Linked DNA regions of Homo sapiens: all the other regions are linked to region 2. Evidence: fine-mapped expression QTL. A gene starts in region 2. Each other region holds a variant in brackets. All regions are shown on one strand. Distances are from middle to middle.

Region 1 (5,109 bases), 450 kb before region 2:
ATTCCAAGAATTCTAGTCATGATGGAAAGAGAATTAAAGTACTGAATGTTCTGCTTTTCTTTCCTTTTTTCCTACTTAATAACCTGAATGGAGAACAAGAGAATAAGAGAAGTTAGTGGAGAAAAGGAGACATAACAAAATTGGGATCATGGCTGGTGAAAATGAGCATAATCAAACAGACATGTTACTTCTAAAAGAGAATATCAGCAAAAGTATTTCCTAACAGTATGAGAATCACAGGTGAACCTAAGTAGATAGGGACCATTTTCTATCAATATCCATGTGGGATTTAAAAATATATATACATATATATGTGTGTGTCTGTGTGTGTGTGTGTGTGTGTGTTTAGGCCAGGCACTGTGGTTCACATCTGTAATCCCTGCAACTCAGGAGGCCAAGGTAGAAGGATCACTTGAGACCAAGAGTTCAAGACCAGCCTGGGCAACATAACAAGACCCTATCTCTACAAAAGATTTTTTTTTTTAAATGAGCTGTGCGTGGCACATACCTGTAGTTCCAGCTACTCAGAAAGCAGAGGTGAGAAGATTGCCAAAGCCCAGGGAGTTTGGGGCTGCACTGAGCTATGATCACGCCACTGCACTCTAGCCTCCTGGGTGACAGAGTGAGACCTTGTCTCTCAAAAAAGAAAAAAATGTTTTTAATATCAGTGTCTGTCCTCGTCAGCTAGCTAATATGGTTATAATTCTCCTTTTTTTAAAATCAATGCATTGCTCACCAAAAAAAGATGACTGTGATACAGTGGAATATAATTAGACAAGAATATATGATTCACAACTCATTGATGAGAATTCTTGTAATTTATCATTAATATTAAAATTCTAACACTAACCTTTCTTCACTATTCCATGTAAAAGATTTAAAAGGTGCACTTGATAAATGAAGTTTGTACTGCAGAAAAAAAGCCATAAAACTAATAACTTACTTAGGCAAAATTCAAACTTTCAGTCCTAGTCTCCCAAGTTAATAGTAACAATAACAAAAATAATGAACATATATACAGCACTAACTCTGTATATACTAGCATATGAAAATAGTCTCAGCACCTACATCTATTAGCTTATTTGATCTTCACAACAACCCTTTTAGGTAGGTACCACCATGATTACCATTTCACAAATGCAGAAACTGAGATACAGAAAAAACTTTTAAATGTCCAAAGTTACACAGTTAGTAAATTGCAGAGCTGGTAGTGGAATCCAGCCAGTCTTGTTCCAGGTAGTTGGAGTTTTTTTTTTTTTTTGGTTTGTTTGTTGTTGTTGTTGTTGTTGCTTAGAGAGAAGGTCTCACTCTGTTACCCAGAAGACTGGAGTGCAGTGGTGTGATCATAGCTCGCTGCAGCTATGATCCTCTTGCCTCAGCCTCTCAAGTGGCTAGGACTATAGGCACATGTCACCATGCCCACCTAATTTTTAAAAAATGTTTTTGGTAGAGATGGGGTCTTGTTATGTTGCCCAGGCTGGCCTTGAACTCTTGGGCTCGGGTGATCCTCCCACTTCAGCCTCCCAAAGCACTGGGATTATAAATATAAGCCACCATGCCTGGCCCAGATCGTGTTCTTAATTATTATATTATACAGTTTTTCAAAATACTTAATATGCATGCATGTACACACACACACACACACACATACACACAAATGCATGCATCTGAGCTCTAAAGTTTTTTTTTGTTTGTTTGTTTTCATTTGTTTTTGTTTTTGTTTTTGTTTTTTTGAGACAGAGTCTTAATCTGTCACCAGGCTGGAGTGCAGTGGCTGGAGTGCAGTGGCCCGATCTCAGCTCACTGCAACCTCCACCTCCCGGGTTCAAGCGATTCTCCTGCCTTAGCTTCCTGAGTAACTGGGACTACAGGCACGCGCCACCACACCCAGCTAATTTTTGTATTTTTAGTAGAGATGGGGTTTCACCATGTTGGCCAGGATGGTCTCGATCTCTTGGCCTTATGATCCGCCCACCTCGCCTCAGCCTCCCAAAGTGCTGGGATTACAGGCATGAGCCACCATTCCTGGCCTAAAGTTTTTACATTTTACTAGTCAATGTATTCCTTTATGTGCTTTTGCATATATTCTGTCTATTTGGAATCTTCTTCCTTCCAGAAACTCCTTCCCTTCCTGCAAGATAGCACAAATGTGGCCCTTTTCATGGACCCTGACCCAGTTTTCCTAAGCAATGATAGATTTTCTTCCATTGCCCCTGTGAACTTTGAGGCTTTGTTCCCACTTACATTAAAGCACTTGTATTTGAAGAGATATATAATCATACTTGTCTCTCAGCCAAGACCACGAGGCTCCTAAGAGCAGAGACACTGAGCTGAACAAAATTTCTGGCACGAGGAAGGCCTGACCAGAAGGAAGGGGTGAAGACCACATAAAGATGCCTTCAAATGGTCTCCATAATGAGTCCTTTACTTAGCGTCTCAAGCACGAGCTCTGCCACCATCCAAAAGCCATTGTGATGGCACTGGCAATCAAGTAGATAAGTGAAGGCCTTCCTTGCACACTGGGGAGGAAATCTTTGCTCTCTTCCATCCCTTCTCCACCATCTGCTGTACCTGTCTACCCTGGCTGCTCCTCCAGCATTGCAGAAAAAAACTAGAAAAAGGAACTCCTATGCCTACCCTGCAAAACCCAGTGAATACAGTAGATGTAGCCTTTCAGACCACCTACCTATTCCAGAATGGACCTAATAAACTCAGCAACTAAGGATGTTAATTATCATCTACCTAACTATAAGTCAGAAATTCTATGCTGTGTTCAAAACAGTTATATCTGAGATACACTTACTCATGCAGTTATAAATCAGAATCTTTTAATATTTTTCAAAAGCAATTTATTTGTAATTGAATGCATTCTCCATGCTTATTCCTTTTAGATGTCTTACTGAATGCAGAGAGAAAATATGGTAGTATCCCTGCCTTTAAGGAGCTTATAATGTCTTAAAGCAGCAACCTATAGCAACCAGATTAAATTAGAACAAATGAAATTAATCGTAATTCTAAACAGTATTTGGAAAAGGGAAAGAATGAC[A/C]GAAGTGGAATGATCATTGAAGATTTCATGAAAAAGAATATATTTCACAACAAAATCCAAAAAAGTTAAACATTAATATTATGGCTAACTTTTACTTATATACGAGTGGAGCTAGAGTATGGCTCTGTTAGATATTAGTATAATATTTAGTATTATATTAAACACCTCACTCCCCTTCACCATAAGAGGTATACCACATAAATCTCTGGAAGTTTTCATCCAATTTATTTTATTTTATTTTATTTATTTTTTTGAGACAGGGTCTCACTCTTTCACCCAGGCTGGAGTGCAGTGCTGCAATCTTAGCTCACTGCAACCTAGACCTTCCAGGCTCAAGCAATCTGCCCACCTCAGCCTCCAGAATAGCGGGGACTACAGGCACACATCACTATGTGTGGCTAATTTTTTGTATTTTTTGTAGACATAATGTTTTGCAATGTTGCTCAGGCAGGTCTAGAACTTCTGAGCTCAAGCAATCCTCCTGCCTTGGCCTCCCAAAGTTTTGGGATTACAGGTGTGCACCACAATGCCCAACCTATTTAATTTGATGTTTATACCTGAATTCTGGGGAAAATAAGTGATTTATACAATGTGTCATATCTGGAATTTCAGTTATAGGCAAAAGAAAACCTTTCTGAAAAAAGGCGAATTATTATTTTACAGTTCTGCAAATCAGAAGTCTAAAATGGGTCTTACAGGCTAACATCAAAGTGTCACCAGAGCTGTGTTCCTTCCAGAGGCTCTAGGGGAAAATGCATTCCTTGCTTTTTCCAGCTCCTAGAGACTGTCCTTATTCCTTGCCTCATGACCCCTCTCTCCATCTTCAAAAGCACATCATTTCAACCTGTTTCCATAGTCATATCTCTTCTCTCTAGCTTTGACCCTCTTGTCTCCCTACTATGAAGAAACTTGTGATCGTATTGGGCCTCCAAGATTATCCAGAATAATCTCCCAATCTCAAGAGTTTTAACTTAATCACATCTGCAAATTCTCTTTTATCACATAAGGTAGCAATCACAGATTCTGGGTATTAGGGCATGGACATCTTTGGTGGGCCATTATTCTGTCTACCACATCTATGCTTCCAGACTTGACGATATGGGAAACCAAAATATATCCACCAAAATATACTTCTTTGGCATATTTTGAGATGGCTCTTTAGAGGGGCTGCAGACATAACAGTGGCTCTGAAAGCTGTCCTTTTGTGGAAAAGATTTGCATCTGTAGAGGAAATCTACATTAGTGAAGTAAACAGTGGATGCAAACAGGATTTCTCTGAGACCCATTATCAGCCTTATCCTAAACTAGGAAAGATTAACTCATAGAAAATATCTGACAGTATTAAAGTTCCAACAGGGAAACTGTCACCACTGGATTCCATCTATTCTTTCTGAGAGCTGTTACCTGAGAGATTTCATCTGCATAACAAGACAGCCTTTGCTCACCATGCCTTTTCTCCCCTCCCCCTCCCAGAACCTGTCTCCAAACTCCAAGTCTCTGTTCCTTTCTGTACAGTATGAAAACTTCAGTCATTTGGCTCTTCTTTAAGTCTCATCTTTTGTGTGGCTCCTGTGCACAGAAATAAATTTATATACATTTTCTCCTGTTGATCTGCCTATTGTCAGTTTGCCTTATAGATTCAAATTATATTCGGAAGAAGGGGAAGGAAAATTCCCTTTACTCTACAGTGGTCACCTGGTTTTAAATAAAATTGGTACAATTAGCAATTACTAGACTTGGCAATAGACGCTAAATATATGGTAATATGATGACAAATGAAAACATGATGATATACTTTTCTGAGTCTACCGATATATGATTCCTTGGTATTATGGACTGAATATTTTATTCTCTCAAAATTCTCTGTTGAGCCCTAACCCCCAGTGTGGCTATGTTTGGAGATGAGGCCTCTAGGGAAGTAGTTAAGCCACCAAACCTGTGTTATTTTATTATGGCAGCCTGCACTGACTAAGACACTTGATGATATCAAAAGAAATGTTAATATGCTAGACATGAGTGCCTGACAGACATGGGGAGGGAAATCAAGATAATATAAATCTAGT
Region 2 (5,109 bases):
GACTTCAAATAAAAATGCACATAGCTATGGAGTGGGGTTTAGCTGGAAAAGGTGACCTTCTTCCAACTTCACGTCAACTTCTGGCTCCTCAAACAGTAGGTTGGCAGTTAGGCAGGGAAGTTGTTTTCCCATTTCTCACTGAGCAGATTGTGAATATTTCCATATGGATTTTCTATTATTAACATTACCCTGATTCTTTGTTTTAAAATAAAAATTCTGAATGTACGCACACAAAAAAACTCTAAATGTTCCATATATCTAATTTATGCTTACCTTTGGCTGTGGCATGAACCACAGCAGCCTGAGAGATAACCTGGTAAGTTTCAAAACCCAAATACGACAAAGCTGAGAGTAAAAGGCCTCTTTTGAAAGTTCCTGGGTTTCCCATTACCTATGGAAACAATTATGTTAAGAGTTACAAACTTTGAAAATTTGAAGGTACTGCTACCCCAAGCAAAAATTACATGAATTTTCTCCCACCCCCAAAGCAATCGATCATAATACTGGAAGCTTAAAAATTACTTCATCAAAATCTTTAGTAAAACTATCTCAAAGCGTATCTTATTGAGAAAAAGATATCCCCTGGAGTCGCCGCTCATCTAAAAATCACACTCCTGCTGGAAAGGAAGAGCTACAACTTATTTGCTACAACTTATTTGCAAATGCATGGATATTGCAAATTGTATGAAGTAAAATATGAGACACCAACACATAATAAAAATGAATCTTACAGACAAGATTATCATATATAGTAATTACTACATATAAAAATGTACATGGCTAACTTTTAAATTTTTTTGTAGAGACAGGGTCTCACTGTGTTGCCCAGGCTGGTTTCAAACCCCTGGACTCAAGCAATCCTTCCGCCTCGGCTTCCCAAAGTGCTGGGATTACAGGCTGAGCCAAGGGGCCAGGCCTAAAATGGGACTTCAAACTCATCATTGTTCCAATTTGAAAACTTACGGCTAACTAGTTTCATACTTAGAACTCCTCCCATCTCTCTGCCTATATTATCTATAACCTCCCCATTTGGTTATAAACTTCCAAGGAAGGGGAATATGCCAAATTTTAACCACCCCTCCCCACCATCAGTCCCATAATAATTCTGAAAGATTTTAACTGAGCAGTTAAAAATTTGAGTTTAAAATAATGAAACCCCTAGTTCATGTGAAATATATCATATGCATTAATGCCATTCCAATTCCCTGACAAGAATAAACAGAGGCCCACGAGCAGTCTAATAGAAATACCAGAACTGAGACTACAACATGCCGACAACCTTCATTGACGTTATGCAGATACAACGGGCAACTGAGAAATAAACATTTTTAAACAAAAACCTAAACAGTATGAAATCTCTGCTTCTGAGTCGTAGAACTTTTTAAATCACACACCACACTTTTCAAAGTCTGAAAGGGGCAGCCTCAAGCGCTGTTGTATCTGTCATCGCCTACAGGGAGAATAATTTCACAGCGGTCAAGGTTCTTTCCCGTCCTGTTTTACATTTCGCACAAGAAGGGCGGGTAGCAGGCAGCTTCTGGGGCGCGTGGGGGCAAACCCCACTCCTTCTCTGACAGCCCCAGTTAAGGATAGTGGAGGTTTGCAAAATGGAAGGGACCTGTCCGGGCGTTCCAGGCACAGTGGCCCCGAGTTCTTTCCTCGGTTCACCACATTCCTTAGGCAGCGCGGGGCCGCCACCACTTAAGTTAAGGGGGAGCCGGAACCCACTGAGTAGGAAGTGAGGAGCGGGAGCCAGGACCACGGGGGTACCTCGAAGCCGCGGAATCGACAGGGGCCGCAATGCCCGCGGCTGCCCGAAGTCCCCGCAGGGAGACGAGACCCCGGGGCGGCTCCACGTCGGAAAGGCAGAAGGCGCCACAGTCGAGCAGCCAGCGCCATGACCTGCAACTTGCGGGCTGACCCTGCACTACTTCAGGCAGCTACGGAGGCGGGCGGGGCTAAAGGAGATTCAATCCTTCCGGAAAGAACCGCGCCCGCCCGCCTCCTGCACAGCACCTCTTCCGCCTCCTGCCCAGCACCTCTTCCGCCCCCATGGTTTCCGGTGCACGGGCTTAGGGGGTGGGAAATACCCCGATTGGGTGGGACTTAATGGACTTTCCGCGCCTGCGTCCAGGACTGAGGCCGTGAGAGCGCTCTCTTCAGGCGCTCTGACTTGTTTCTGCTCCATCTCTCTAGGGGGTCTTTCATGGTTTGGGCACAAGGATTCGTCGCCAGAATAGAACTGAAAGCTCGGAAATAGACCCGAGAATACAAGTATGCCAGAAAAAAAATTGTCATTTTAATTATCTGCTGCCTTCAAAAGTAGATTGAATCTTGGTACTAGTGGGTCTTTTTTGGAAGTAAATAATTGGAAGAATTATGTTGCCCAACATGAAGAAGGGAAAGTCTCAGTCTCTTCGACTGAGCGACTCAAGGGGGTAGATTCAAGAGAGAGTCCAGAGCAAAGAAACAAAAAATGCAAAGCGTTTTGGGAAGAGGAACTAGCGGGAGGAGGCCTCTGGAAAGGATACTGATGCCCTTGAATGCTAGGGCATGTGTAGTAAAAAACAGAAACAAAAACAAACCCTGGTCTCCCCTAAAATTCTTCAATAAGATGTTTTACTTACTCGAGCAAAGTATTTTATTTTACTCGAGTAAAATAAAATTTCTTGCTCGAGTGGAATTCTTTTGTGGGAAAATGAAGAAATTTTGGATCCTACTTGAGGCCTGATCAGGGTGGGTGGAAACACAGACTGCAAAGGGAGTACCTACTATATGGGTTTAACGAAAAATCTTATGGGTAATAAGGGAGGCGAGTCATGGTTTTAAAAAATTAGGTTGCATTTCTATGGTACTTTTAATACTGTATAGGGAATTAATACATAGTCGTATTGATCTTCCGAACTACCTTGTGAAGTAAGTGGTATCCCAGGTTTACAAATGAAAAAACTGTAACTCAAAGAGATGTATTAACCTAACCAAGGATATGTTAGAAGACAGGAATCCATGTCTTTCTACTCTGAGTCCAGTGCTCCTTCTACTATATGATTGCTACCTCCACTAGTCCCATTAAATCAGCTGTATTTCTTTAGGATTATGTCTTTAAAGTCTATCTTTAAAAATATATAGATCTCCTTCCCAACTTCTGAAACCTAGCTGTTTTTTCCCAAAGACAGAATCACTTTTATTTTATGCATTTCTACTGGCAGCTACCCCCTCAACATTGCTAAATGTTTATGCCACTGGATACCATGATAACAGTGAAATTAAGTTTCTGATATCTCTGCTAGAGTGAATTTGTAATTAAGTTTTTAGCTTTGAAAAAAAAATTAGATCCTAAGAAAAGTTGCAGGAACTCCCATATATTCTTCAGCTAGATTCAGCCATTGTTACCTTTTTCTCACATTTGCTTTATCTTTCTTTACATATCTTACCTATAATACACATATTATATTCCTAGTATTTTCTGTTGTAAGGCCTTTTGAGAGTAGATTACAGATATCATGACTCTTCAGTCTTAGAAACAAGACATTCCCTTACTTAGTCCCAGTTTAATTATCAAATTCAGGAAACTGAAATTGACAGAATACTATTATTTAATATACAAATTTTGTTTAATTCCCAATACTGTCCTTTATACTAATGATTTTTTTTTCTAAATTCAAGATCAAATCTTGATAATGTCTTGCATTTGTTATGTTTCTACTTTCTTTAAATCTTTAAATCGTCAGCCTTGGTCTTTCACGACATTAGTATTTTTTAAATGTATAGTCCCATCGGTTTAAAGCAGGGTTTCTCAGCCTTGGCACAATTGAACTTTTGGGCTGAAGAACTCCTTCAGCCCGTCAGGCCATCAGATGATTGCAGCCTTGGCCAATATCTGACTGCAACATCAAGAGAGATGATGAGCCAGAAGCACCCAGCTAAGCCACTTCTAAATTCCTAAACCACAGAAGCTATGACAGATAATAAATGATTGTTCCTGTTTTAAGCCACTAAATTTGATGTAATCTGTTACACAGCAACTGATAACTAATATAACAGCCAAGTAAAGCATAGAGAGTTGGAGTGTGGAGTTTCAGAGGAAAGGTGTGGAAGTTTGATAACCTTAAGAATATAGGCTGGGCGTAGTGGCTCACACCTGTAATCCCAATATTTTGGGAGGCCAAATCGGGAGAACAGCTTGAGCCCAGGATGTTTGAGACCAGCCTGGGCAACACAGTGAGACTCTGTCTCTACAAAAACATGTTTTTCTTGTTGTTGTTTGTTTTTTGTTTTTGTTTTTGTTTTTTAATTTGCTGCATGTAGTGGTGCATGCTGTAGTCCCAGCTACTCAGGAGGATGAGCTGGGAGGATCATTTGAGCCCAAGTGTCCAAGGTTGCAGGGAGCGGTGATCACACCACTGCACTCCAGTCCAGGCAACAGAGTGAGACACCGTCTTTAAAAAAAAAAGAAAAGAAAATTAAAGAAGTTCGGGCACGGTGGCTCACGCCTGTAATCCCAGCACTTTGGGAGGCCAAAGCGGGCAGATCACGAGGTCAGGAGATCAAGACCATCCTGGCTAACACAGTGAAACCCCGTCTCTACTAAAAATACAAAAAATTAGCCGGGTGTGGTGGCGGGTGCCTGTAGTCCCAGCTACTCAGGAGGCTGAGTCAGGAGAATGGCGTGAACCCAGGAAGTGGAGCTTGCAGTGAGCCGAGATCGCACCACTGCACTCCAGCCTGGTGACAGAGCTAGACTCCGTCTCAAAGAAAAAAAAAAGAGAGAGAAAATATAGATGGAATTCAAAGCTCTGAGACTAAGGCTGGGCGTGGTGCCTCATGCCTGTAATCCCAGCACTTTGAGAGGCCAAGGCCAGTGGATTTCTTGAGCTCAGGAGTTTGACACCAGCCTGGGCAACATGGTGAAACCGCATCTCTACAAAAAGTACAAAAATTAGCCAGACACGGTGGCTCGTGCCTGTAGGTCCCAGCTACTGGCTGAGGTGGGAGGATCGCCTCAGGCTAAAGCCTGAGAGGTTGAAGCTGTGGTGAATCGTATTCGCACCACTGCATCCCAGCCTGGCTGGGTGACAGCAAGAACCTGTCTCTCAAAAAAAAAAAAAG
Region 3 (5,109 bases), 31 kb before region 2:
CATGTTGATATACTTAAGTTGTCCTGGGGTTAAATATATTCGTATATTCAATCATCCGATCATTCATCTATTTACTCAGTCATTCAACAGATTTGCCAAGCATTGTGCCAAGTAATGAGTGTGCAATTGTGAGCCAGAAAAGACAAAGTCCACATCTTCTCAGAATGTACAGTCTTACACATGTAAATGTTCATAGTATTGAGTGATAAGTATCACTGGAAAAATAAAAGATACTAAGGGCATCAGAGGAGCCTCTGAACTGAATATAGGCCAGAAAGAAATAAGGTAAGGTCACTCAAGAATGACTGAAGTTACCAGGGATTATTTTAGCTCCATGAGGGTAGGACCATGTTTTTCTCAACACCCCCAACCCTTAAGTCTCTAAGGTCCTATATTTTTACTTTGTAATTAACTTTTAAATCTGTTAAAAAAAGTCATCCCTAGATTCATATTCATGATATGTGAAACAGTATGATCAAGAGAGGGTATCAGTGAAGGTAATAATGAATAAATCAGAATTGATGAATTACAGAGATAAAACATTCAGATAAAATTCTGTAGAAGATAACTGTTATCATGAAATGAACAAGTCCATTATGTGTGGGATCTCAAATTTAATAAACATGGTATGTCTTCTCCTGATTAAGTTTTATAGAATATATTTCAATGGTTTTTATGGTCTATTTGGTATCATATGCTTATGTCTCTTATCTCCCCCACTTGGTGTATGAATATTAAAAAGGATAAATTTAGGATGGGCTGGTGGCAGTTTCATAGGACTAGTCATTTTTTCAAAACAAACATAACCCGAAACTCTTTTTCACAATATCTGCAATAGAACTAGCCTGGCTGAATAGCAGAATTCCCATTTAAATGCCTCTAATGAGATGCATAATCTTTTTTTGTTTTTTTCAGACAAGTCTCACTCTGTGGCCCAGGCTGTAGTGCAGTGGTGCAATCACAGCTCATTGTAGCCTGGAACTCCTGGGCTCAAGTGACCTTCCTGCCTCAGCCTCCTGAGTAGCTGGGACTACAGGTGTGTGCTACCACACCTGGCTAATTTTTATTTTTATTTTTTGGTAGAGATGAGGTCTCGCTATGTTGCCCAGGCTGGTCTCAAACTCCTGGGTTCAAGTGATCCTTCTGCCTTGGCCTTCCAAAGTGCTGGGATTACAAGTGTTAGCCACCACATCTGGCCAATATGTGCAGTCTTGAATAAGACAATTACCATGTCAGAGACTGCTCTCACAAAGGAAGCAGAATTACATCAAATGATAGACATTCCAGAACTGCAGCTCTAAGTTCAATAGCAGCCTATTTCTCATTCAGGTGATCTTTACTGAATAAAGACTTTAAAAATTGTTTTACAGTATCTAGCACAAAAATAAGTATAACAGAATAAACAACTGCTTTAGACATTGCTATTATAGTATATATTCAGCATTCATACAATTTTAACTATATTAATATGTGTAATCAAAAATACCTTACCTTGTTCTGCCCTGTGAAAGTAGCCTAAGGCCTGTCAAAAACACAAAGAGCCCAAACATAATAAAAAAGATTAAAGAAGACAATATTAAAAAAGCATTGTCTCAAAGATCTACTGCTATATTATATTTAAGTCAGGAAGTAAATCATCTTAAAATAATGGTCACTTCTTCAACAGTGAGAGTTAACACCCAAAGTGAACGTAACACTTCAATCATCAAGATTACAATATATGGACTACTTCTGGTAATAACTTGGTTGCTGTTTAGAACTTGTACCAAACTAACATCATGTGCAGAAAGGAAAGAACATTATCACGTGTAACTCAGCTATTTTGACAGTTCTCTTAAATCATAACTAGTGATTTTTAGTAAAAACAAAATATAATCAAAAGCTGAATTTATTCGTTGTACTAGTGAATTTTTAAGAGTCCATTATTATTGAAATTCCTACATACAATGTTAAGTCTGAAACTCTTTTTGTCCTACTTAAGCTACTGTTTTTGTAATGCATTCTCTAATGACATTTGATTTCTAGAAACATAACTAATTTGATAAAGTAGAGCTGACTATATTTTTTGTCCTTAAAATGACCTGTCTTAAAAAAAAAAAAAAAGAACCAGGTCTCACTCTGTTGCCCAGGCTGGAATGCTGTAGCGC[A/C]ATCACTGTTTATTGCAGCCTTGACCTCCCAGGCTCAAGTGATCCTTCTCCCTCAGCTTAGCTGAGTGACTGGGACTACAGGCACAGGCCACCACACCTGGCTAATTTTTGTATTTTTTTTGCAGAGGTTTTGCCACGTTGCCCAGGCTGGTCTCAAACTCCCAGGCTCAACTGATCCACCAACCTTGGCCTTCCAAAATGCTGGCATTACAGGCATGAGCCACCGTGTCCAGCAAATGGGCATTATTTTAATAATACCATTATAAAATATTGGTGCATTATTTTAATAATATTTCTCAACTGTGTGTAAAGAATACAACTAAGTATTTTTTACATCAATTTCTACACTATAGCTTCCCAGAAAGAAAAAAAAGCTCCTTGTTATAATGTAAATAATACAAGTACAGCTTTTTCGATTGCCTGTTTTCTTACTCTGAAAAGCTTGTGATGAGTAAACCCAAAGTTTAACCAGAAATTCCTCTCAAATCTTATTTTTAACAAGAAAAGCAAAAGGCCTTGAAAATATGAGAGAATATGAACCTTTCATATGCTTTTTAAAATAGAAGTTATAATGAGTGTTCTTCTTTTATCAACTTAAGCATCTGCTTTACTTTTCTGTTATTGTGTGTAATACAGCTAAAACATGCTGGGTAACAGATGCTGTATTTCTTGTTCTATTTTATGACTTCAATATAGTTTAGATTTCAAACAGAAAATGAAGGTAGATTTTAGCCACGAGCCATTTTAGATGACAGTATTCCAGAATTACCAGCCACTCACCTAACGGGGAAAAAGAAAACCACTCACCAGTCAAGGATAATAAGTGTTAAGCCTTGTGATAACACAGTTGAATTGGATCATTAGAAATTGCTCAAGTCCCTCACTGAATCAGAGCTCCACATGTGTGAACACATGGTAGAATGGCGCTGTGGTTAAGAAATCCGTACTAACTTAACAAAGGACATCATACTACCTTCTCATAGGTGGAACTAGGAGGAGTTGCAAACAGCATTTTAGCAATTCTTCTTTGATACCAAGGCATTTCGGCAAATGTATAGCACCTACAGGGAAATAAAACAATTTTATACATTCAAATTGTACCTTCTTTTCTCTTAAAGTTAACTAAGCATCTTAATACTATAAAAGGAATCTTCTACTGTATGTTTAAACAACTTGTGCTTTACATGATATCTACTAGGTAATCCAGAGATTGACATAGTGATCCTTTAGCTGGGGGGTGTATTTTGTGATTAAATATAAATAGTAAGCAGTCATACTAATAACAGTAATATAATATACATCTACCACTGAGTGCATTGTGCCAGGTAGTGGGTTGATTCTCTCATTTATTCCTTGTAACAATTATATATGAGATAGGATAATTTCCCCTATTTTTCTTATAAGAAAAACTCAGAGAAGTTAAACCTTACACAAGAAAAATGACAAAGCTAAACATCAAATGTATAAATAACAGCAACCAACAACTTAAATCTATTTTTAAAGCAGCAAAGCAAATGATTAACCTCCAAAGATCTTTACAACTTTCAGAAATAAGTAGGAAAGAAAGTGTTGCATCTTTGACTAGGGTCTGAAGTCCTTAAGGCAGAAATTGCTATTTCATTTGGGTTTGCTTACTAGCATCTGACTTAGTGACTGCCCCTCAATTATCATTAATCCTCAGTGAATGAGTGTTAGCTTAATATGTCCTTTATCCTGAAGAATATATTTCTCTTTTAAAAGAGTTTGATACAGGACAGTTTACACTGGTACCCTTCTTAGATGGCAGTAAATATTCAGCTCTGCAGGCTATACTCAAAAGAGTGTCCCATCTATCTCAAAACAGACTCTTAAACCATCAAGTACGTAACACTTTGATAAAGCCTCATACCAGCAAAATAATAATCTACAGTGGACATAAGATCACATAAAAATAGAAAGATACTGAAAATCAGATTATATGGTTCCTCAGATTAATCAAGACTGTATCTGACACACTTTGAAGATACAAAGACCCTCTTGGGGCATTCTACTGTTTTACTATAGTTACATTAATCTAATTTCATTTAGCATGGTAAATAAGAATAGTCTTTTCAGTCTGTACATGTTTCTAAATGACCTGAATAACAATGTTTAACATGGTCATAATCAAATTTAGTATGTTCTAACAATATATATACAAGGGCTAGTTAATGGATTTAGCACTCTAAGCTCTGTCAGATAATATTTTAAAATATTTAATATCTTTTATATATGCAAAAGAAGATATTTATACATACTACAAAATATCACACTAAATACTACTGAAATATTTAAAGAAATTTTCTTACCAAATACCCATAAGGTGAATTGAAGTAGCATCTTTAGGGTTCAGTTCAATTGCTTTCTAACAAGAAATGAGAAAAATAAATCATATTTGTTTTCTAAACACCAATAAGTGCTTTACTGTGTTTGCTGAAGAAGCCATGATTTTTTAAAAAATGCAACTGTGTGTTTCAGTTCTCCCATTATAATATCAACTTTCTTCCTCCTGATTCTTTGATTAAATTCATTTCAAAACACTATTAATGACTTATACTAATGTTACTATTTTGTATGGTTCAGACATTTATAGTAAGTGTCTATCAAGATGAGAAAAAACATGAAATACATAAATGGATTAATTTTGCAAATTAATCTTGCAAATTAATCTATAGCTCTTAATGTTTCTTCCAAATTAAAGGAAAAATGGATAAGGAAGTACTTTCTTGGCAAACTGTAGATGAATACTGAATAAAAGTCATTCTTTCCTAAAGAAGAAAAGTGCATTTTAGTTTTTTAGAAAAAATGTAATTTTAGAAAGTCTCTTCTATGCAGATTTTAGAAAGTCTTTTCTATTTTTAGAAAGTCTTCTTGTATGCAGATTTTGTTCAACTTCCCCATCTGTACTTACCAAAGGAAAAATAAACAGTTTATAGAATATTAA
Region 4 (5,109 bases), 170 kb before region 2:
GGCAGGAAGGCCTGAAGTTCAAGACCAGCCTGGGCAAAATAGTGAGACCCTGTGTCTATAAAAATATTTTAAAAATAAAAACAAAGAGTATCAGTAAAGGCCAGGTGCGGTGGCTCACTCCTGTAATCCCAGCACTTTGGGAGGCCAAGGTGGGCAGATCACCTGAGGTCAGGAGTTCAAGAGCAGCCTGGTCAACTTGGTGAAACCCTGTCTTTACTAAAAATAGTTTTTAAAAAAGACCATCACAAGAAATAATTTCCTTCATAAGATATAACTGCTTTAAGTTATATCTTATGGCATGGGAAGCCCTTAAGACTGATATACCTACTTACTTTGTTCGGTACTTATAGGAAGGTAAACAGGAGAGGGGAACATCAGAAGAGGAGAGGACTGCCTCATGTTGGTATTTCACTCCTTCAAAGGAATTCTTAAGGAAGTGCAGATTGTCCTAAGGGGCACTGCTCTCTATGCTATCTGAGTTTTGGGCTTTGACCAGAAGGGGAGCATGAGAATGAGGAGAATACTAAAGAGGGCTAAGTAACAAGCACTTGGGTGATAGGATCATTTGTACACCAAGCCTCAGTGACACGCAATTTACACATGCAACAAACCTGCACAGGTATTCCCTGAACCTAAAATAAAAGTAGAAAAAGAGAAAAAAAAAAAAGAAACAAGTGAAGCAGCATTCAAATGAGTAATGGAAGTGAAGCAAACCCCACCTCTTTCACAAGTACAGGTGAAATAGGAAACTTTTAAAGTGCAAGGGAAAATAGGTTGGGGCAGTTTCTCAGCTTCAGCATTAATGCCATTTGGACCTGATCATTCCTTGTTTTTTGAGTGGAGTGATGGGGCTGTCTTGTGCACTGTAGGATGTTTAGCACCCTCTGTCACATCTACCCACTAGATGCCAATGGAACATCCAACCTACCCCCATGAAAAATGTCGTAAGCCATTGCCAAAATCCCCTGGGATATGAAATGGTCCCAAGTTGAGAACAACAGGATTAGTGTATTTGTTATCTATTTCTGGATAGATATAAATTATCTCCCAAATTTAGTGACTTAAAACAATAAGCACTTATTTTACCGCTATAGTTTCTATGGGTTAAGCATTTGAGAGTAACTGAGTTGGGTGGTTCTGGTTCAAGGTCTTTGATGAGGCTGCAGTCAAGACGCAATCATCTGAAGGCTTGACTTAGGCTGAAGGATCCACTTCTAAGATGTCTCACTCACGTGGTGATGGCAGCAGGCCTCAGACTCTGGTGGTTGTTGGCAGGATGTCTCAGTTCCTTGCCATGTGGGTCTCTACACAGGGCAGCTTCCTGTGTCTTTGCCATATGGCAACTGAGAATGATCTGAAAGAGAGTGGGAGGGGCTCCATGATGCCTTTTTATGGCCTGGTCTTGGAAGTGACACACTGTCACTTTTGCTATATCTGTTAACAACAAGTCACTAATTACAGCCTACATTCCTTTTGGAAGAGAATTAGGCCTCACTGGTTTATTTTTTTTTAATTTTATTTATTTATTTTTTTTTGAGAGGGAGTCTTGCTCTGTTGCCTAGGATGGAGTGAAGTGGTGCCATCTTGGCTCACTGCAACCTCTGCCTCCTGGTTTTTTGTTTTTATTATTTTTGAGACAGAGTCTTGCTCTCACTCTGTTACCCAGGCTGGAGTGCAATCATGATGCACTCATGACTCACTGCAGCCTTGACTTCCTGGGCTCAAGTGACCCTCCCACCTCAGCCTCCAGAGTAGCTGGGATTACAGGTGCACACCACCATGCCCAGATAAGTTTTTGATTTTTAGTAGAGATGAGGTCTCACTACGTTGTCCATGCTGGTCTCGAACCCCTGGGCTCAAGCAATCTTCTCACATTGGCCTCCCAAAGTCCTGGGATTACAGGCATGAACCACTGTGCCTGGCTAGGCTTCACTTTCTGAGGGCAGAAGTATCAAAATATTTGTAGACATATTTTATTAAGAAATTTAAAAAAATTATTCTTGGAAATATAATACAGACAGGGTGTATTAGTCTGTTCTCATGCTGCTAATAGAGACATACTTGAGACTGGGTAATTTATAAAGGAAAGAGGTTTAATTGACTCATAGTTCAGCATGGCTGGGGAGGCCTCAGGAAACTTACAATCATGGCAGAAGGGGAGGCAAGCACAACCTTCTTCACATGGTGGCAGCAAGGAGAAGTGCTGAGCAAAAGGGGGAAAAGCCCCTTATAAAACCATCAGATCTTGTGAGAACTCACTCACTATCACCAGAACAGCATGAGAGTAACCGCCCCCATGATTAAATTACCTGACACTGGGTCCCTCCCACAACACGTGGATATTATGGGAACTACAATTCAAGACGAGATTAGGGTTAGGG[A/T]TGGTGGCTCATGCCTGTAATCACAGCACTTTGGGAGGTCGAGGCAGGAGGGTCACTTGAGATCAGGAGTTCAAGATCAGCCTGGCCAACATGGTGAAACCCCGTCTCTACTAAAAATTAAAAAAAAAATTAGCTAGGTGTGGTAGCATGTGCCTGTAATCCCAACTACTCGGGAGGCTGAGGCAAGAGAATCACTTGAACCCAGGAGTGGAGGTTGCAGTGAGCCAAGATCACACCACTGCACTCCAGCCTGGATGACAGAGCAATACTCCATCTCAAAAAAAAAAAAAAAAAGATGAGATTTGCGTGGGGACACAGCCAAACCATATCACAGGGTTTGTCATGTTGGTCAGGCCGGTATCAAACACCTGGCCTTAAGTGATCCACCTGCTTTGGGCTCTCAAAGTGTTGGGATTACAGGTGTGAGCCACAGTGCCCGGCCTGTAGACCTATTTTAAAACCACTACAGTTAGAGAACAATTTTTTAAACAAATGGTTTGGGGGAATACCATGAGCTATTTTTAAAGGAATAAAAGTTAGATTATCATTGCAAAATAAATCCAAGAAAATTAAATTATTTAATGAAAAAAGTAAAATAGTCAAACAAGTAGAAAAAAGTAAAGACAGATGAATTATATGATCTCAGGATGGGAAAGATGTATGAAGTAAAAAACAATGGAAGAATACAAAAATGGAAAAGATCAATAGTTTTACAAAGGACTAATATCTACATTGTGTGAAGCACCCTTTTGTGAAATACCTCAGTAAGAAAATGGACAAAGGACAAACAATAAGCTACCATACATACACATATGAAAACATACCATGATGATTTGGGCACATGGAAGAAGGACAATCACATACTGTCATGTAGTGTTGTGGGAAAATTGATAACCATTATGACAATCATTTCTTGATTATGTGCCATGCTCATGTGTTAAGTAGCTCTATGCGTGTTATTTATAGCAATTTATATATATTTTTTAATACAACATGTGGAAGCACTATATTAATTTTCTAGTTGAGACACAATTAGATTAAGCAATTGGCCAAATCTCTCAGCTCATAGGCAGCAGGAGGGTCAGGTTATCCATTAGGCACAGTAGACACAGTGCCTCAGGCTTATAACACTTTCGGGGGCCCATAAAAATGTTTTAATTTCTTTTAAAATCAGAAGGCAAAAAATTGAATATTTAGGTCAAAGAAAATATTTTAATGTATAATGTTAATATCTTTTTCTTCATACCAATGCAGTAATAAAATATATTTTGTAGTATTATTTTATGGAAGATGAGGCCCACACAGGTATAAGCACCTAGGGCCTGTGAAAGTCAGAATGTGGCACTGGGTGGCAGAGCTGTGTTTTGATGCTGGGCGATGTGATACCTGAGCCTATGCTCTTTCTGGAAGGTAGTTGCCAATATGTTTCAAAAGGGCTAAACTTGTTCATACTTTTTTATTACTTTTAATAATTTATCTAAGACAGTTAATAAGGACATGAACAATGGTTATGGAATACTATTTATAATATTGTTCATTTGAAACCAAACAGTCAATAACAAAAGGCTGGTTCAATATTGGGTGTCAGCTTGAGGACTAGGTGAGTACTAAGAGCTTCTGAACGGGGAGGAAATTGAGCAATGAGGGGAGCTGAAAGTGAGACACAGAGCAGGAAGAGGAGGCCTGCATGCATTCTGGAGAAGGAGTCCAGATCCCTGCTGGGGAATACCTACGGAATTTCTGAGGACGTGTTTGTAAGCACATTATTGCATCTATTTAAAGGGACCAGACAGCAAAAGCAAAAAGATGAAGAAAATCTTAGTACATGTTTAAAGCAGAGATGAGTGGGCACATATGGGGCACTGTGAAGAGTTTTTCATAACAGGAGAGATAGAGCATGTGAGCATCAAAGGAACCTTGAATATCACGTTAATCTTTGTCAGGAGAGCTCCGAAAAGCCAAAGAATGATTTTAAGCAGTGGAATGACACAGATGTATATTTTCGAATGATCTTTGTGGATATAATGTGCACCAATTTCAACTATGAAGCCAGAGGACAAGAACTAATGCATGGAGGTAGGCGGGAATGTGCATTGTTCAGTCAAGAGATACTTGTTGAATTCTGTACACACTCATGAAGTGTTGGGGTTGTTTTTGGTACACAGTTCTTTCAAAAAGCTCAGTTAAAATGGAAGGGGAGAGAGAACCAGAGGTTTTAAAATCAAGGGAAAATTTAGGACCTAATCTTAAAACGTGATTATGCTGAGGAGTTGTAGGCAGTGGAGAGGGTGAAGTTAAAGATGTGCCAAGGACCGCCCACAGTGGGGAGCAGGCAGTGGAGAGGAGCAGGGACATCTAGCCTCCGAGATAGAAGGAAAACTAGTAAGTCTGGGTGTGGACGTAGATATAATCTATGGGGGTTGGTCAGGTGGTTGGGCAAAAGCTGTAGAAATCCATGCCTGAAGGCTTCTGCTTCTCTGAAGTAGAAACCGGGTCACCTGGTAAGCAATGTGGTCCCACTGACTTCTATTTGCACATTGGCCTTTCTTCTAAAAGCAATACACATAACCAACAGTACTTTTCTAAACTAGTTGACTTTTCTGTAAAATGCAGACAGTAGACACTACTTTGTCAGATTGTTGTGTGCGTTAATTGTGCGGACACGTATACTCGGTCAATAAGTATCTGCTTTATCACCGGGCTGATGTGAGTGAGGACTAGGTGGTGG
Region 5 (5,109 bases), 79 kb before region 2:
CTATTTTGGTGATTTTCAGAAATGGTATAGACTGTGTTACAAGATATTTTTTAGTTAATCTTTAATAAATAGTGTTTCTGATATATATAAGTACTTTATAATATTTTAAAATATTCTAGTTTACTAACATAACTTATACATTAAGTTTTATATCCTACGGGGTAGTTTCATAAATGCATTTCTTAACAAAATAATATTTTTACTAATTTTCAATCTTCCACTTTTATAAATTTTGTTTGCTTTCAACAAAACCAGTTACTTTATTATTTTACTTAGAGCCAGTCTTGCAGTATGCTACCTATTCTGATTCTCTTCCCAGATTCTAAGAAGCAACACTCATCTGTTTTGCTCCATCAAAGATATTTCTAGAACTCGAAAGTTTTATCCAAAAAATCTAATGCTGTCTGAAAATTTGACCAATTGGTGATTTACTTATTGCCATAAGCAAACATCCGTGAGAGGAGTGGAAAAAACAAAACAAAACTCCTCTGATAAATGGTGTGATCATAGGAGGTAGAAAAGATAAATTTTAAGTACTGGACAACTACAGATAGTGTTTTGAGGCAACTTGAAGAAACCTAAAATATAGAAGCTAGCAGATAGAAAGGAAGTAGGAAAGAGACATAGAAAGAAAATGTAAGTAACTTTCTCCAAAATCCTGCTGCAGTCTGGCTCTTTCAACCACATTTTTTTCAGAGGTTAAATAGTAAGTTCTCATTTGCAGGTTGACCTACTCTCCTGGTTATATGTAGCTAGCAGGGAGGGAGTGGGCAGCCTAGTTTCCATAGCGTTTCCTGCTGCCTTCAGTTGCTGGTTCTTCCATGACTTGTACAGAAATCTGTGGTAAGGTTCCATAATTTAGCTGTATATAGTAATTATACCGTGTGGTATATATAGTAATATATATAGCTATATACATCCATAAAAAGTAATACATATAGCTTTGTTTTTGGTTGGACTTATCTGTACACATGAAAACCTTTGGTGAACAGGGCAGAATGAGGTAACAGATGTGTATCAGAAGAATGTTATCTTGCAAGTAATAGAATCTCCTTAAACACATTGAGGTTTAATTATCTCAGTACAACATCAAGTCTGGGGTAAAAGTGTAAGTGCTGCATTGACTCAGTAGTGTCATCAAGGACCCGGGTTCTTTCTGCCCTTTTGCTCTGCCATCCATATCGCACTTCAGGCCTGTTACTTCGTTTATATACTCTGCACTATGGGCCTCACATCCATAGTCTAGGCAAGAAGAAAGAGAAAGAGGAATTGAAAGGGCAGATGGCTCTGTTGTTGCAAGCCCTTGCCTTTTTTACTTAGCGAAGGATGCCCTCACCATGGCCTTCTGCCTATACCTCATTGGCCAGAATTGGTCACTCTACCAACTCAGCTGCAGGGAAGGGGGAATGGAATGATCTTTATGGCCACGTTTCTACCTCCAACAAAACAGGGTTTTGGTTCTCAAGAACAGGTGGAAGATAAATATTGAGTATAATTAACTGGGTCTGTTACAAGATTATATTCATCAAGATGCATATACTTTAAGAAATTATTTTTCAGGTAATGATTTTTATATTTGTCATTATTATAGAATTCTTGATAGAATACTTATATTTTCTTCAGAATATATTTCTAGGTTATAAGAATGGAGGCATACATAAAAATGTGTTTTTATGTATGTATGAAAATATAAAAGATACTAATTAAAAGTTTATTTCTATAAATGATACTGGAGTTGAGTGTTAGTTTTATTAGTGGGCATTTGTTTTAAAGAAAATTGTGATAACTGTTCTATTTTTAAACAAATAATATTGCCTCATTTAAACATCATAATTTCCTATATGTTCTTCTCCCATTTCATCTTCCCTCTATAGATTAGTATGGAAGGACTGGGAGAGTAAAGTATTGATGCCAGTGTATTATTTTTAAATCATTTTCGAAAAACTAATAATTAATTTGATAGTTGATAGTCTCCTCTTCGTGACATTTTATGAACTTAGTGTCTTGGCTGGGAGCGGTGGCTTACACCTGTAATCCCAGCACTGTGGGAGGCTGAGGCGGGTGGATCGCTTGAGCCTAGGAGTTCGAGACCAGCCTCAGAAACATGGCAAAACCTTGTCTCTACAAAAAATACAAATATTAGCCGGGTGTGGTGGCGCATATCTGTAGTCCTAGCTACTCGGTTGTTGCTGAGGTGGGAGGATTGCTTGAGCCCGGGAAGCAGAGGCTGCTGTGAGCTGAGATCACGCCACTGCACCCCAGTCTGGGTAATAGAGCAGGAAGATCCTGTCTCAAAAAACAAAGAACTTTGTGTCTTGAAATTGCTATATTTCCTTATAATGTGGACCTATCTATCTGTCTATATAATAATATAGATATATTTTTGAGACAGCTTCTCGCTCTGTTGTGCAGGCTGGAGTGCAGTAGTAGTGTGATCACAGTTCACTGTAGCCTCCACCTCCTGGGCTCAAGTGATCCTCCCACTTCAGCCTTCCAAGTAGCTGGGACTTTAGGCATGTGCCAACACATCTGGCTAATTAAAAAAAAATTTTTTTTTATAGAGACAGGATCTTCCAGGCTGGTCTTGAACTCCTGGGCTTAAGTAATCCTCCCACCTTGCCCTCCCAAGGTGCTGAGATTACAGGCATGAGCCACTGCGCCCAACCCCTTATCATATTTTTAGAAAATTATTATAAAATGTGATTCTGCCACATGCTTGGCTTATTTCTACTTTCATATTAAAACACTGTTATTTTATTTCTCTCCCTAATCTTTTCTCCAATCAGGCTTCAATGTTAGCTGCAGAAAATGACCCTTATGGACCTTTGCCACCAGGCTGGGGTAAGCTGTTTTTGCTAATGATCTATAAGGGAGATATATATCTCTCCATATATATATATATATATATATATATATAT[A/G]TATGTTCCTTATTTTATATATATATATCTCCCTTATATATGTCCCTTAACATATATATATCCCTTATAATATATAATATATTTAATATGGATTATATATTCTATATATTATATATTCTGTAGAATGTTATATATTCTGTATACTATATAGAATATATAATCCATATTAAATATATTATATATTATAAGGGATATATATGTATATTATATATGTATATATTATAAGGGATATATATATGTATATTATAAGGGATATATATATGTATTATATATATAATATACAGAATATATAGAATAGATTATATATTAAAGAATTATATATTATAGAATATATATTATATTCTACATAATTATCTATAATATAATATATATTATATTCTCTATAATATAATATATGTTATATTCTCTATAATATATATTATATTCTATATAATATATTCTATAATATATAAGGGATACATATATCCCTGATATGTTTTTATATATATAATATATATTATATATAATTATATGTGTTCCTTATTTTATATATAGATCCTAAATAGTTATTAAATATTATACTCACTTTATATTTCAGAAAAAAGAGTGGATTCAACAGACAGGGTTTACTTTGTGAATCATAACACAAAAACAACCCAGTGGGAAGATCCAAGAACTCAAGGGTATGTATATACAGCAGCCTTAAGTCGTCTTGCATATATCAGTAGGTAGAACCAACCAACCTTGAATGAGATATTTTTAGTACCTAGAAAAGGTTCATCTTGTGATTTTAACTTTATCTTTTAGCTTACAGAATGAAGAACCCCTGCCAGAAGGCTGGGAAATTAGATATACTCGTGAAGGTGTAAGGTACTTTGTTGATCATAACACAAGAACAACAACATTCAAAGATCCTCGCAATGGGAAGTCATCTGTGTGAGTGAAAACCTGAAGTTCTCCTTTAAATATTGCTTAGTGAGCACATGAGATTTAGTCTCTAATTTATCCTCAAGTTTAGCAAAACATTTTACTTTTTGGTTCAAGAAAACCTACACAAGTGAAACCTTAGTATAGCTGTCTTTGCTCTCATTTGACAATGGATTTGCAGCATGTAAACTATTTATGTAGTGATTACTGTGTGCCGAGGATTGTTCTAAGTACTTCATAGGTATTAACTCATTTTATCTTCCAATAACCCCTTGAGGTAGATACTATTATTTTTCCCTTTACCAAGTGAGGAGAGGTATAGGGAGCATAACTAACTGTGCAAAGTTATAAGGCAAGTAATGGAGCTGGTTTCTAACGATGACAGTCAGTCTCTGTCTAGACTCTGTGCTCTTAACTGCCACATCACACTGCTGCAATGAGATGGTCAGTGAAATGATTTTTCCAGATTTAAAGATACCTTAATTAAGCGGTTGACAGATCTCTCCTTCATTCTTACTCTAAGGTGTCATGTCTTTGCATAACTAAGAAAATAGAAGCAATCCTAAAAGGTCTTTTGCAAAGTTGTACCACCATATCTGTCCGTCTCCTACCATCTCTCCTCCCTCCTGTTCCTATAGATGAACTGTCATTGTTATTATCAAAGTCTCGTCCCTCTGCTGGTACATTCGATTCCTACCCCCACTTTTCTACTTAATTGCTCCAACAGTTATCACCTTTGTGTTGCATTATCAGGTTTTATTTCTCTACAAAATTATTCTTATCAGCTGTTATTTCTCCTAGATATAAAAAAAAAGCAAAAAAAAAAAGAAATTACAACTCTTCCCTTTACCAATGTGTTCAATCGCAGTTCATTTTTTTGTTTTTTTTTTGAGACGGACTTTCGCTCCTGTTGCCCAGGCTGGAGTGCAATGATGCGATGTCAGCTCACTGCAACCTCCACCTCCTGGGTTCAAGCGATTCTCCTGCCTCAGCCCCCTGAGTAGCTGGGATTACAGGCACCCGCCACCACACCCAGCTAATTTTTGTATTTTCAGTAGAGATGGGGTTTCGCCATGTTGGCCAGGCTGGTCTCGGACTCCTGACCTCAGGCGATCCACCTGCTTTGGCCTCCCAAAGTGCTGGGATTACAGGCGTGAGCCATCACACCCAGCCCACAGTTCATTTTTATTGCTCCCCTTTACAGGAAAGCTACTTGCATGGTTGTCTCTGTATTGCTGTTCATAGTTTCTCCTTTAAACCAACTCCAAGGAAGTTCCCCTGACAC

Direction of the effects. Alleles are on the strand shown, and positions count from the first base shown. SD is a standard deviation of normalised expression in the study named. Not every link is listed here.
For the expression in neutrophils of the gene that starts at base 1,965 in region 2, allele G in region 5 goes with a lower level than allele A (small effect, 0.40 SD a copy in CEDAR).

The links. PIP is the estimated chance that this variant, and not a neighbour inherited with it, causes the effect.
Region 1: its variant is fine-mapped to the expression of RMDN1 in whole blood (INTERVAL, PIP above 0.99).
Region 3: its variant is fine-mapped to the expression of RMDN1 in thyroid (GTEx, PIP above 0.99).
Region 4: its variant is fine-mapped to the expression of RMDN1 in whole blood (INTERVAL, PIP above 0.99).
Region 5: its variant is fine-mapped to the expression of RMDN1 in neutrophils (CEDAR, PIP 0.94).

What each region holds. Positions count from the first base shown.
Region 1 is chr8:86,055,659-86,060,767 of GRCh38, forward strand. The region is part of intron 2 of PSKH2 (protein serine kinase H2); the gene reads right to left. Among named protein-coding and RNA genes, the nearest start is that of PSKH2, 11 kb to the right of the region's middle. The variant A/C (reference allele first, on the strand shown) is at 3,047.
Region 2 is chr8:86,506,722-86,511,830 of GRCh38, forward strand. It overlaps RMDN1 (regulator of microtubule dynamics 1), which reads right to left and starts at 1,965. Exons shown (of 10, transcript NM_016033.3): 1 at 1,771-1,965; 2 at 274-391. The coding sequence starts at 1,899. It also overlaps the pseudogene SLC2A3P4. RefSeq lists an enhancer at 1,710-1,879.
Region 3 is chr8:86,475,803-86,480,911 of GRCh38, forward strand. RMDN1 (regulator of microtubule dynamics 1) reads right to left here. Exons shown (of 10, transcript NM_016033.3): 6 at 4,475-4,530; 7 at 3,121-3,208; 8 at 1,492-1,522. Among named protein-coding and RNA genes, the nearest start is that of RMDN1, 30 kb to the right of the region's middle. The variant A/C (reference allele first, on the strand shown) is at 2,148.
Region 4 is chr8:86,337,034-86,342,142 of GRCh38, forward strand. WWP1-AS1 (WWP1 antisense RNA 1) reads right to left here. Exons shown (of 6, transcript XR_007060994.1): 4 at 1,233-1,354. Among named protein-coding and RNA genes, the nearest start is that of WWP1, 3.0 kb to the right of the region's middle. The variant A/T (reference allele first, on the strand shown) is at 2,382.
Region 5 is chr8:86,427,911-86,433,019 of GRCh38, forward strand. It overlaps WWP1 (WW domain containing E3 ubiquitin protein ligase 1), which reads left to right. Exons shown (of 25, transcript NM_007013.4): 12 at 2,787-2,841; 13 at 3,496-3,580; 14 at 3,705-3,833. Among named protein-coding and RNA genes, the nearest start is that of RMDN1, 78 kb to the right of the region's middle. The variant A/G (reference allele first, on the strand shown) is at 2,919.